4 linked regions of the Homo sapiens genome follow. The protein of the gene in region 2 purifies or fractionates together with the protein of the main gene of each other region. This does not show direct contact. Each region holds a gene or a part of one and is shown on either strand. Other genes may lie near its edges.

The links. Proteins that work in one complex are often made in the same cells at the same time.
Region 1: the proteins of MAPK6 (region 2) and AHSG purify together in Homo sapiens (affinity purification with mass spectrometry; 2 studies listed by BioGRID and IntAct, with this or other methods). This does not show direct contact.
Region 3: the proteins of MAPK6 (region 2) and SERPINA1 purify together in Homo sapiens (affinity purification with mass spectrometry; 2 studies listed by BioGRID and IntAct, with this or other methods). This does not show direct contact.
Region 4: the proteins of MAPK6 (region 2) and RPS27L purify together in Homo sapiens (co-immunoprecipitation; 2 studies listed by BioGRID and IntAct, with this or other methods). This does not show direct contact.

What each region holds. Positions count from the first base shown.
Region 1 is NC_000003.12:186,618,939-186,621,818, forward strand, and holds the end of AHSG (alpha-2-HS-glycoprotein isoform 2 preproprotein), read left to right. Parts: intron 1-918; coding exon 919-1,002; intron 1,003-1,647; coding exon 1,648-1,992; 3' UTR 1,993-2,380; downstream 2,381-2,880. UniProt on the Homo sapiens protein: Promotes endocytosis, possesses opsonic properties and influences the mineral phase of bone. Shows affinity for calcium and barium ions.
Region 2 is NC_000015.10:52,046,719-52,050,218, forward strand, and holds part of MAPK6 (mitogen-activated protein kinase 6), read left to right. Parts: coding exon 1-297; intron 298-3,274; coding exon 3,275-3,419; coding exon of another isoform or gene 3,420-3,424; intron 3,425-3,500. UniProt on the Homo sapiens protein: Atypical MAPK protein. Phosphorylates microtubule-associated protein 2 (MAP2) and MAPKAPK5.
Region 3 is NC_000014.9:94,378,603-94,382,102, forward strand, and holds part of SERPINA1 (alpha-1-antitrypsin precursor), read right to left. Parts: intron 2,540-3,500; coding exon 2,269-2,539; intron 1,010-2,268; coding exon 862-1,009; intron 39-861; coding exon 1-38.
Region 4 is NC_000015.10:63,151,114-63,154,477, reverse strand, and holds part of RPS27L (ribosomal protein eS27-like), read left to right. Parts: intron 1-417; coding exon 418-446; 3' UTR 447-3,364.

The DNA of each region.
Region 1 (2,880 bases), on a different chromosome or scaffold from region 2:
CTCTGATACAAAAGCTTTCAAGTCCTTGAGCCAATAATGTACACTTCTAGGATTTTAGTCTAAAGAAGTCATCAGTGGCCAGGCATGATGGCTCATGCCTGTAATTCCAGCACTTTGGGAGGCCAAGACGGGTGGATCGGGAGGTCAGGAGATCGAGACCATCCTGGCTAACATGGTGAAACCCCGTCTCTACTAAAAATACAAAAAAATTAGCCAGGCTTGGTGGTGAGCGCCTGTAGTCCCAGCTACTCGGGAGGCTGAGGCAGGAGAATGGTGTGAACCCAGGAGGCAGATGTTGCAGTAAACTAAGATCGTGCCACTGCACTCCAGCCTGGGCAACAGAACGAGACTCTGTCTCAAGAAAAAAAGAAAAAGAAAAAGAATTCATCAGTGACATTTGACAGAATATATCTATAAAAATGATTTATTATGGATATAAAGAGACCAAAAAAGAGAGATCTGTATGTCCAACAGGAAGGTGTCATTGAATAATCCATGCACATCAGTAAATAGAAAATTGTGCAGACACTAAAAATTGTGTTTTCAAGGAATAATGAATGATATGAGAAAATGCTATTATGGCAAGTGAAAACACACAGGATACAACATCGTATAGTCACAATGATCTCAATTTTTAAATCATATTTAATAGTATTTTAAAATAAGAAAGAAATGCATCAATGTTAACAGTCCTTCTTTCTAGGCCACCACCAGAAAGGGATTATGGGTAATCTCTCTCACTCTCAAAGTATTTCTGTATTTCCATGTTATATATAGAATCATATACCTCCCACAAGCAGAAACTATAACTTTAAGAAAAATGGTTTTTCAAACTAATTTAAGGTTGGCGCGTCAATGAAATTGGGGGGGATCCATTTTTGAAATTAGTTAAAATAAATCCTCTTTCTCTGTGGGCAGCAATATGGCTTTTGTAAGGCAACACTCAGTGAGAAGCTTGGTGGGGCAGAGGTTGCAGTGACCTGCATGGTGTTCCAAACACAGGTAACAGCTCCGTGAATATTCTTGCCTACACCTTCAGAATACAATGACCCCTTCACATTTATGCAGTGCAGTAGTGATGACAGGACATTTGCTCTCCTGTGCTTCTGAATCTCACAGTATGAAATAACACTGGGGTATGCGGAATCATCAACAAATGGAAGGATATTTTAGCTATGCCTTTCCCTCCCACGAACTAGTGACTACAGGGAAGAACCATCTTACTGTGTAGTTGACAAAGCCACCTTTTTATTTGTGGGAGGTGGGAGTGGTTTTCTGAGTTGCAGAGACCAGGTGGCCAGATCTACCTGTTAGCTCCCAGTGGCTGCAGCTTCAGATGACAAAGAGGGTGGCACTGCTGGGCAAGGGTGAGCCATAGGTGGGGTGCTTTTACTCATTGGACATATGCGTGTAAGTCCACCATCACAAAGACAATCCTAGTGAGGCCGGGGCCAACATAGGCCAGTCACCCCTCCTTGTAACCTTGATGACAATCCCTTGTACTTGGGTAGGTCCTTTCTTGCTAGACTCTTTGCAAATAAAAATGTATAATGTGAGGAAATTGGGTGCCAGTGCCACCTGGGCCTGTGGGTTGTCTTGCCTGGGAGGAGGAAGCAAACTAACTGAAGGAAATGGTCCTTTTTCCAGCCCGTGAGCTCACAGCCCCAACCAGAAGGTGCCAATGAAGCAGTCCCCACACCCGTGGTGGACCCAGATGCACCTCCGTCCCCTCCACTTGGCGCACCTGGACTCCCTCCAGCTGGCTCACCCCCAGACTCCCATGTGTTACTGGCAGCTCCTCCAGGACACCAGTTGCACCGGGCGCACTACGACCTGCGCCACACCTTCATGGGTGTGGTCTCATTGGGGTCACCCTCAGGAGAAGTGTCGCACCCCCGGAAAACACGCACAGTGGTGCAGCCTAGTGTTGGTGCTGCTGCTGGGCCAGTGGTTCCTCCATGTCCGGGGAGGATCAGACACTTCAAGGTCTAGGCTAGACATGGCAGAGATGAGGAGGTTTGGCACAGAAAACATAGCCACCATTTTGTCCAAGCCTGGGCATGGGTGGGGGGCCTTGTCTGCTGGCCACGCAAGTGTCACATGCGATCTACATTAATATCAAGTCTTGACTCCCTACTTCCCGTCATTCCTCACAGGACAGAAGCAGAGTGGGTGGTGGTTATGTTTGACAGAAGGCATTAGGTTGACAACTTGTCATGATTTTGACGGTAAGCCACCATGATTGTGTTCTCTGCCTCTGGTTGACCTTACAAAAACCATTGGAACTGTGACTTTGAAAGGTGCTCTTGCTAAGCTTATATGTGCCTGTTAATGAAAGTGCCTGAAAGACCTTCCTTAATAAAGAAGGTTCTAAGCTGAATGTGGTCATGCTTATTGCGACTTCATCCCAGCTCCCCTCACATGCATAGCCTTTTACCCCAACAAACACAGTGTCCCTAATCAAAATCAAAGTGAAAAGAGAACCAAAAGAGAACAAAAACCTGCTGTATTGCCAGATACAGGAAAAAGTGAGACTAGGATCTTTCCACAACCCATAAGATGTGACCATTTCTTTTTTTTTTTTTTTCTGAGACGGAGTCTTACTCTGTCACCCAGGCTGGAGCGCAGTGGCATGATCTTGGCTCACTGCAAGCTCCACCTCCCAAATTCAAATGATTCCCCTGCCTCAGCCCCCTGAGTAGCTGGGACTACAGGTGCGTGCCACCACACCCAGCTAATTTTTTTTATTTTAGTGGAGACAGGGTTTCACCATGTTGGCCAGGATGGTCTTGATCTCCTCAACTCATGATCCACCCACCTCGGCCTCCCAAAGTGCTGGGATTACAGGCGTGAGCCACCGCACCTGGCCAAGATATGACC
Region 2 (3,500 bases):
AGTGGAAGCCAATTAACAGACGATGTGGGCTCTCTTACGGAACTGAACAGTGTTTACATTGTTCAGGAGTACATGGAGACAGACTTGGCTAATGTGCTGGAGCAGGGCCCTTTACTGGAAGAGCATGCCAGGCTTTTCATGTATCAGCTGCTACGGGGGCTCAAGTATATTCACTCTGCAAATGTACTGCACAGAGATCTCAAACCAGCTAATCTTTTCATTAATACGGAAGACTTGGTGCTGAAGATAGGTGACTTTGGTCTTGCACGGATCATGGATCCTCATTATTCCCATAAGGTATGTATAGAAAGCCAGCTGAGACAGATCTTTAAACTGATACACCTAATCAGGAATAGGTACTTATATTTTCTTTGTATATTGTGGCAGAATTTTTAATCTTATTAAACTTTACATAGTGCCTTTTTTCTGAAACAAGTCTCTCTGTTTGAAATGAAGGTGGAGTGGGATAATTAAATACAAATTTCTAAAAATACATGGTTATTATAATGAAATTTTAAAGTGTATGGTTATTTATTATAAATGAAATTCTCCCTTAGTTATTTAAAAGTGGAATATACTCTTCTTTCTTTGGGACAGAATTGTGGTAAGAGGGGATGCTATTTCAACTTTAGGTCTTTTGTTTTTGAGACAGAGTCTCACTCTGTCACAAAGGGTAGAGTGCTGTGGCGCCATCTCGGCTCACTGCAACCTTCATCCCCTGGATTCAAGCGATTCTTGTACCTCAGCCTCCCAAGTAGCTGGGATTACAGGTGCGTGCCATCATGCCCAGCTAATTTTTTTGTATTTTTAGTAGACAGGGTTTCACCGTGTTGGCCAGGCTGGTCTTGAACTCCTAGCCTCCAGTGATCTGCCTGCGTCAGCCTCCCAAAATGCTAGGATTACAGGTGTGAGCCCCCATGCCCAGCCTTTTTTTTTTTTTTTTTAAGTTTTTAGTGACAAGATCTTGCTGTGTTGCTCAGGCTGGTGTCAAACTTCTGGGCTCAAGTGATCCTCTGGCCTCAGCCTCCTGAATAGCTGAGGCTAAAGGTGCATGCCAGCACACCCAAGCTTATGTCTTCTTTTGTCTCTTTGAGCCTGTACTATTCAGTTCTGCTTTGTTTAAACTAAATTTAGCTTGAAATCTAAATTCACATAAACAATTGGTAATAAGTATAGCCAAAAAGATCTCACAGCAACTTCGTCTTAGATAGCAAATTGCCTTCATACAAGAATTTAATATTTTTCAAGCTGAACCTTGGTCTTTTAGTTTGGAAATGAAATCTTATGTGGGACCCTGATGTTTAAATTAGAGAGGTGGAGCTGCTTTGGTTGTAAAGAACCCCTGGGAGCCCTGCTTTGTTAGCTTTCCACAGTACATGCCTAAGACAAATCTTCATACATGTTGTTTCACGTTAAGATTATTTTTATTTTTATTTATTTATTTTTTTGAGACTGAGTTGTGCTCTTGTCACCAAGGCTGGAGTGCAATAGTGTGATCTCAGCTCATTGCAACCTCCGCCTCCTGGGTTCAAGCAGTTCTCCTGCCTCAGCCTCCCAAGTAGCTGGGATTACAGGCGCCCGCCACCACGCCCAGCCCACATTAAGGTATTTTTACTTGGGCCAGGTACAGTGGCTCACACCTGTAATCTCAGCACTTTGGGAGGCTGAGGCAGGCGGATCACCTGAGGTCAGGAGTTTGAGACCAGCCTGACAACATGGTGAAACCCTGTCTCTCCTAAAAATACAAAATTAGCTGTGCCTGGTGGTGCATGTCTGTAATTCCAGCTACTCGGGAGGCTGAAGCAGGAGAATCCAGGAGGTGGAGGTTGCAAAGAGCTGAGATTGCGCCAATGCACTCCAGCCTGGGCAACAGGAGCAAAACTCCATTTCCAAACAAAAAAGATATTTTGTAGAAAATGAGTTCTAGGCTGGAAGCGCGGTGGCCCCTGCCTGTAATCTCAGCACTTTAGGAGGCCGGGGCAGGAGGATCACTTGAGGCCAGGAGTTTGAGACCAACCTGCGCAGTGGCTCCTGCCTGTAATCTCAGCACTTTAGGAGGCCGGGGCAGGAGGATCACTTGAGGCCAGGAGTTTGAGACCAACCTGGGCAACACAGACAACTTTTTTTTCCTAGAGAAAAAGAAAAAGAGATGAGTATTACACTGACGACGTCCACAGTGAAATATTGTGGGTAGAGCACTGTATCCACAGTGAAGTATTGTGGATAGAGCACTGAACTAATAAGACTTATACTATATAAAATTGACTCCATTTCTACATCCAACTAGCTATATGACTTGAAGCAGATCTCACTCTCTCAGTCATCACACCTATAAAATGGAGTTAATATCTACCATCACAATCTCTCAGGGTAGTTTTGAGGATGAAATAAGGCAATATATGTGTAAGGTTTTGTAAGGTGCTTTGTAATTGTAAAGTAGTTGAATAGGTGATGAATAGGATTTATAGTAGAGGTCATTAAGGAGGTAGACATTGGTTTATAAGTAGCACCTCTGGTGCTCTTCCCTACTGTTCTGACTTGAAGCATACTTGCTCTTTGATTATCTCAAGACTGAGTGTAAACCAGCTCGTCTTCTGAAAAATGCTTTGAATGTGTGGCCTAGAGTTATATAATTTTTTTTTTTTTTTTTTTTTTTTTAAAGACAGGGTCTTGCTCTTTGCTCACTGCAACCTCTGTCTCCTGCGCTTAAGTGATCCTCCCACCTCAGCCTCCCAAGTAACTGGGACTACAGGCGTGTGCCACCATGCCAGGCTAATTCTTGTATTTTTAGTAGAGGCAGAGTTTTACCATGTTGCCCAGGCTGGTCTCAAATTCCTGACCTCAAGTGATCCACCTACCTCGGCCTCCCAAAGTGCTGGGGTTAAAGATTAGGATTTTTTTTTTTTTTTTTTTGAGATGGAGTTTAGCTCTTGTTGCCCAGGGCGGAGTGCAGTGGCACAATCTCGGCTCACCGCAACCTCTACCTCCCGGGTTCGAGCGATTCTCCTGGCTCAGCCTCCCAAGTAGCTGGGTTTACAGGCATGCACCACCACACCTGGCTAATTTTGTATTTTTAGTAGAGATGGGGTTTCTCCGGTTGGTCAGACTGGTCTCGAACTCCCGACCTTGGGTGATCCGCCCACCTTGGTTTCCCAAAATGCTGGGATTACAGGCATGAGCCACCACGCCTGGCAAATTAAGGATTCTTTAATCAAGTTGTAAGTACTGTTCTTCAGCTAAAGTAAAAAAAGTATGTTTTTTGTTTCTTTTATAGGGTCATCTTTCTGAAGGATTGGTTACTAAATGGTACAGATCTCCACGTCTTTTACTTTCTCCTAATAATTATACTAAAGCCATTGACATGTGGGCTGCAGGCTGCATCTTTGCTGAAATGCTGACTGGTAAAACCCTTTTTGCAGGTTAGTATTTTGTGGGGGGAAAAATTTTCCCAAAGAGAAGTAATTTTGCATTTTATCTCTGAAGCAAGATTCATATAAGAT
Region 3 (3,500 bases), on a different chromosome or scaffold from region 2:
CCTTTCTCGTCGATGGTCAGCACAGCCTTATGCACGGCCTGGAGGGGAGAGAAGCAGAGACACGTTGTAAGGCTGATCCCAGGCCTCGAGCAAGGCTCACGTGGACACCTCCCAGGAAGCGCTCACTCCCCCTGGACGGCCCTGGCCCTGCACATCCTCTCCCTCCCTGTCACATAGGCCTTGCTCCTCCTCAAGGCTTTGGCTGATGGGGCTGGCTCCCCTCTGTCCATCTTCCTGACAAGCGCCTCTCCCCCTGCTCAGGTGCACCCACAACTCAGAACAGGGAAGAGCATCGTCACTCCACGTCTGCCTCCAGGGCTCTCTCCTTTCTAGTACACGGCTTGAAGCTCCTTGAGGACACGGACCCTGGCAGTGACCTTCACAGTGCCCAGACCCCAAGATAATGCAGCCATTCATGGAACTGCAGTTGTTCATTGGTCGCCTTTAGTTTTCCAAAATAAGTGTCATCTTTAGCTGAAATCATTCATTAATTCAGACACCAAATCTCACAGATCGAAGGAGTCAGAAATTCCTTTGAAACAACTTAGCCCAAACCTTTCTGTGTCAGTATGGATAAATCAAGGCCCAATGTCTAGAAGGTCTTGGGCAAAGTTGAAATTCAGGGTCAGTGACACAACCTCAAGGGAGGCCCCGAAAGTGCCAGCTGCACAGCAGTCCCCTGCCTGGCTTTGCTGTTTGACCACGTCCCGTGTCAGTGAATCACGGGCATCTTCAGGAGCTCAGCCTGGGTCTTCATTTGTTTCCCTCGGCCCCTTCCTCAGCCTCAGGACAGAGCTGCAGCCCCCACACATTCTTCCCTACAGATACCAGGGTGCAACAAGGTCGTCAGGGTGATCTCACCTTGGAGAGCTTCAGGGGTGCCTCCTCTGTGACCCCGGAGAGGTCAGCCCCATTGCTGAAGACCTTAGTGATGCCCAGTTGACCCAGGACGCTCTTCAGATCATAGGTTCCAGTAATGGACAGTTTGGGTAAATGTAAGCTGGCAGACCTGTCGTGCAGAAAAGAAATTCAAGGCATGGCACAGCATTCCTCTTGTTCTTCTGGGACCCACCACAGTGCAAGTGTTTTCTTTTCTGATTATTTCTGCCACTTACTCCTGTGTCCTCCACCCACACTAAGATGGGAACTCGGCTTTGGTTTGTTCTACTTTTAGCTCTTCTACATTGAGTCAAAGAATGTTAACATCGAATGAATCACAAAAGCTTGAAATGCCACCTCCTCTGATATTCTAGGTGTCCTGGAAGCCTGTCTCATCTTGCCCTGTAGTGTTGGGTCACCTGGCCCCCAGCCTGTAACATCCCCAGGGCCCTACACCCAGAGAAACACGGGGCTGGTGGCAGTGCCCAGTGACAACCGTTTAGTGGATAAGAGAAGAGTGACCACACCAGGCTGAGTGCTCCTCTCTGGTTTTCCATGGGGAGACAATGCCACCCTGAGCAGGGTCTGGTGTGAGCGGGCAGCTTGGCTCTGGGCTCTCTGATCCGTTACCCTCTCAGCCTCTTTGTTCTTTCTCAACCCCTGGAGCAGAGACCTCAGGAGGTGCTGGCATGGAACAGAGAAATTCCAGCCTCGATTCCTATTATGAACCCGACACCTTTTGTATTTTCATCTTGGTTTTACAGTGTACAAAACGAACTAGATCAGCAGGGCATGGGCATAATCACGAATGCACACACATACACTAATGTGTGGCTCATGTTTAAGTATCACTTACTACAGGACACCCAATCTAACAGCACCGATAAAGTGACAGAGAAACGCAAGCCTTCTGCGAACATGGCCTGGCTGTTCCAATTCCGAACCTTGCTTTTCTGGGCCTTGCCACACAGGCTCTTCCCCCGTCCCCCCAGGGACATTCTACCCTTGAACTCCACACTCCACTGCTGCCTTTGCCAGGAAGCCCATCTGTTCCTTTTTGGTTCTGCCAGAACGTGTGGTGGTGCTGCTGTCCCTGCCCTGGGCACTGGATATTGGGAAGGGACAGTGTCCACACTGGAGTGGGAAGTCCCCAGGGACGAGACCTTTACCTCCTCACCCCTGGGTACTGTCCTCCTCATGGAGCATGGATGGCGCTGCCTGAACTCAGTGGTGGCCTCATTCTGGAAGCCAAGTTTATACAGAGTAGCAGTGACCCAGGGATGTGGGGTTCACCCTCCTCAGCCCTCTGGCCAGTCCTGATGGGCCTCAGTCCCAACATGGCTAAGAGGTGTGGGCAGCTTCTTGGTCACCCTCAGGTTGGGGAATCACCTTCTGTCTTCATTTTCCAGGAACTTGGTGATGATATCGTGGGTGAGTTCATTTTCCAGGTGCTGTAGTTTCCCCTCATCAGGCAGGAAGAAGATGGCGGTGGCATTGCCCAGGTATTTCATCAGCAGCACCCAGCTGGACAGCTTCTTACAGTGCTGGATGTTAAACATGCCTAAACGCTTCATCATAGGCACCTTCACGGTGGTCACCTGGTCCACGTGGAAGTCCTCTTCCTCGGTGTCCTTGACTTCAAAGGGTCTCTCCCATTTGCCTGGAGAGAGGGGAAGGTGGGCATCACCAGGGGTGAGTGAAGGTTTGGAAGAGTGTAGCAGAATAAAGAAACCATGAGTCCCCTCCCTGAGAAGCCCTGAGCCCCCTTGACGACACACATCCCTCGAGGCTCAGCTTCATCATCTGTAAAAGGTGCTGAAACTGACCATCCAAGCTGCCGAAAAAGATTGTGTGGGGATAATTCAAAACTAGAGGAAGATGCAGAATTTCTACATCGTGGCGATGTCAGGCTAAGAGATGCCATCGTGGCTGTGCATTTTTATTGGAATCATATGTTTATTTGAGGGTGTCTTGGATATTACAAATAAAATGTTGGAGCATCAGGCATATTTGGTACCTTCTGTCTAAGGCTCCCTGCCCCTTGTTAATTGGCAGCTCAGTTATTCATCCAGGGCAAACATTCTGCTTACTATTCCTGAGAGCTTTCCTCATCCTCTAGATTGGCAGGGGAAATGCAGATGCCTGAGCAGCCTCCCCTCTGCCATACCAACAGAGCTTCACCATCGAGGCATGCAGAGTGGACAGGGGCCTCAGGGACCCCTGATCCCAGCTTTCTCATTGGACAGAAGGAGGAGACTGGGGCTGGAGAGGGACCTGGGCCCCCACTAAGGCCACAGCAGAGCCAGGACTTTAGCTGTGCTGACTGCAGCCTGGCTGCTCTCCACTGCCCTCCTTTGCCTCAAGAGCAAGGGAGCCTCAGAGTGGAGGAAGCAGCCCCTGGCCTTGCCTCCCACCTCCCCTCCCCTATGCTGTTTTCCTGGGACAGTGGGAGCTGGCTTAGAATGCCCTGGGGCCCCCAGGACCCTGGCATTTTAACCCCTCAGGGGCAGGAAGGCAGCCTGAGATACAGAAGAGTCCATCACCTGCTGTATGCCACACACCATCCCCACAGTCTTTGTCATTTGTTTAATCCTAAAAAAACCTGACAGCAAGAATGGTAT
Region 4 (3,364 bases), about 11 Mb from region 2:
CAGATGGTTTAATGGGTCTATCTGTTCTAGAGTTTTCCTAATAGGTCTGAAAATACCTCTAATCAAAATTATTTACTTGAGAAAAGTATTCAGAATAGTTCCTAAAAATTAAGAGTATATCTTCTGACAGCTTGCTTGAAACAGTCTTCACTGTTGAATTCAGGCTCATGGTCTTAAGTAGACTTCATTATAGCATTTGAGAAACAGGAGTGACACTTATAGTCATACCAGAGTAAACTCAGATATGATAGATGTATTATAGCAAATTTCTGGTATAAAAGGATAAATAATCTGTATATGAGTATTAATCCAATATTCTTAAAACTTCAGTATTTTACTTAAAAGTACTTTTTGTCATTAAAATTATAGCAAAGGTAGAATGCACTTGTTTAATATACTCTCATGATTCTTTTGCAGGGTGTTCATTTAGAAGAAAGCAACACTAATGATTCAAACAGCTTCCTGAATTTTAATTTTGTGTTGTCTCACAGAAAGCCTTATCATAAATTCCATAATTCTAATTAATTTACCAAGATAATGTAATTACATTTGGTTTTGTAAGGTATACAGCAGTAATCTCCTATTTTGGTGTCAGTTTTTCAATAAAGTTTTGATTATGGGCAAATCCCCTCTTTTTCTTTTTTTAAAATATATTTGAGTATGCCATACATTTATATATATGGTGTATATGAATTTGGTTTAAACATTTTAAAATTTATTCTGATTAGTTTGTGTCTTTTTTTTTTTTTTTGAGAGAGAGAGTCCTGCTCTGTCACTCAAGCTGGAGTGCAGTGGTGCGATCTCGGCTCACTGCAACCTCCGCCTCCCAGGTCCAAGCAATTCTCTTGCCTTGTCCTCCCAAGTAGCTGGGATTATAGGCACACACCACCATGCCTGGCTAATTTGTGTCTCATTTTCAAGAGTAGAAACCCTAAATATTTTATTTTCATTCCTTTTCCAAATTGCTATGAATGGGATTAAAGGATTACAGATGTAAAGTCTATTATTTGTGAATTCTAAATGTAGTTCTGCTGTTGTACCTGTGGAAACATCTTAAAGAAGTACATATTTTGCACGTCCTGCACGTGTACCCCAGAACTTAAACTATAATTAAAAAGAATAGTTTCAAAAAAATACATATTGATCACAGTGTAATGCCTTGGATTTATGTGGCCTTGCTATACTACTATATAATTTAGGACAGTAACTGCTAGCTGGGGTGTGAGTTATTTATTGGAAGCTCCTTTTTAGGGTAGAAAATTTGAGGAGAAATCTGAAGTGGCATGATTTACCCGCAGAAGTCCTGGTTGGGGATAGTAGATGGTGTTGAATTCTCTGGCCCAGATAGGTGAGCACTCCTGACTACAGATGTGTGTTGAGTGGTTCTGGTGCCTGCCTCATTGTCATTTTCATAGTTTATGAAGTAATCCTGGGGAGCTGAGACGGGGAGTGTATCCACTCACTATACAACTCCTCATTGGACTAGGAAGATAGTCCAGTTTCTACTCTGCTTCTATTTGATTTGTTACCTTGTGGCAGGTATTTAAAACAGGCATTTCCTATCAACAGGTAGGCCTCTAATGTGAGCAACTGATCCTCTTACATACTGCTTAAATCAGAGAACTGTTGCACAAGAACTAAAGAATGATGGCAAGTTTGGGGTGTATATAGTTGTATAAGGAAGGCTGGGCGCAGTGGCTCACACCTGTAATCCCAGCACTTTGGGAGCCTGAGGCAGGTGGATCACCTGAGGTCGGGAGTTCAAGACCAGCCTGACCAACATGGAAAAACCCCGTCTCTACTAAAAATGCAAAATTAGCTGGGCGTGGTGGTGCATGCCTGTAATCTCAGCTAACTCGGGAGGCTGAGGCAGGAGAATTCGCTTGAACCTGGGAGGTGGAGGTTGTGGTGAGCCAAGATCGTGCCATTGCACTCTAGCCTGGGCAACAAGCACGAAACTCCGTCTCAAAAAAAAAAAGAAAAAAAAAATATATATATATACATATATATGTAGATGACCCAGAGATTCTCAGACTTTTAGTTTCTGACATCATTAGAATCTCAGTAATTTTTTTCAGGCCATTCCTTGGCCAAAAGAAATACCTAACAGTTACATTTATTAACTTATGTTCTAACAACTCTAGTAGCCATTTGAAAAAAACTATACACACACAAGAGCAAAAGTGATGTGATGATTTTTTTAAAAATAGAGACAGTGTCTTGGCTCTATTGCCCAGGTTGGAGGGTCATAGCTCATTGTGACCTCAAACTCCTGGGCTCAAGCAAGCCTCCCACCTCTGCCTCCTGAGTAGCGGAGACTTCAGGCACGTGCCACCACGCCCGCCTAATTTTTTTGTAGAGATGGGGCTCTGGCTGTGTTGCCCAGGCTGTAAGGAACTCCTGGCCTCAGGTGATCTGCCTTGGCCTACCAAAGTGCTGGGATTACAGGTGTGAGCCACTGTGCCCAGCCTGATGTGATAATTTTTATCTCATCCTTAAATCATCACAGTTACTAATGGAATGTGTGTGCCTTTTGGGCTCCATACAGTTTCTCAAAATTGAAATCAGATTGGACACCATTGTCCTTATTTCTTCCACATTGATTTTTGCATGGTGCTTTTTGTCATAGCAGTGGCTCCAAACCCAGCTTCACAAGGATAGGATGCCATCAAAGGGAATGTAGTGCCATATCATATTGAAACTGAACTTCCTGGAACTAGTAGTTTATACAAAAGATGCGTCAGTGTCAAGTGTTTTTCCTGAGGTACTCCAAGGCACTTCAGCTTGCACAGTTTAGGATACTTGGCTATAAGGAGAGACAGTGGGATGACAGCTTTTGATGAGAAGGAATCAAACCTATGATGAGGACTAATCTAACAAACCCTGAAAATTCCCTTGGAAGTATTTTTTAAAAAAGGATTATACTTTAAAGACCACATCTAAGGGCTGGGCGCGGTGGCTCACACCTATAATCCCAGCAGTTTGGGAGGCTGAGGCAGGCAGATCACTTGCAGTCAGGAGTTCGAGACCAGCCTGGCCAACACAGTGAAACCCCGTCTCTACTAAACATACAAAAATTAGCTGGGCGTGGTGGTGTACACCTGTAGTCCCAGCTACTTGGGAGGCTGAGGCACAAGAATTGCTTGAAACCAGGAGGCAGAGGTTGCAGTGAGCCAAAATCGCACCACTGCACTTCAGCCTGGGTGACAGCGTGAAGCTGTGTCTCAAAGAAAGAACACATCTAAGGATTTACATGGCATTGGGAAACGAATGGTGTATTAAGTTTTACTTTATTATTAATCTAGATGGTATTACTGGTTTTGAAAAGTGCTGAATAGGACACCAGGACTTTCCCAAACTTCAG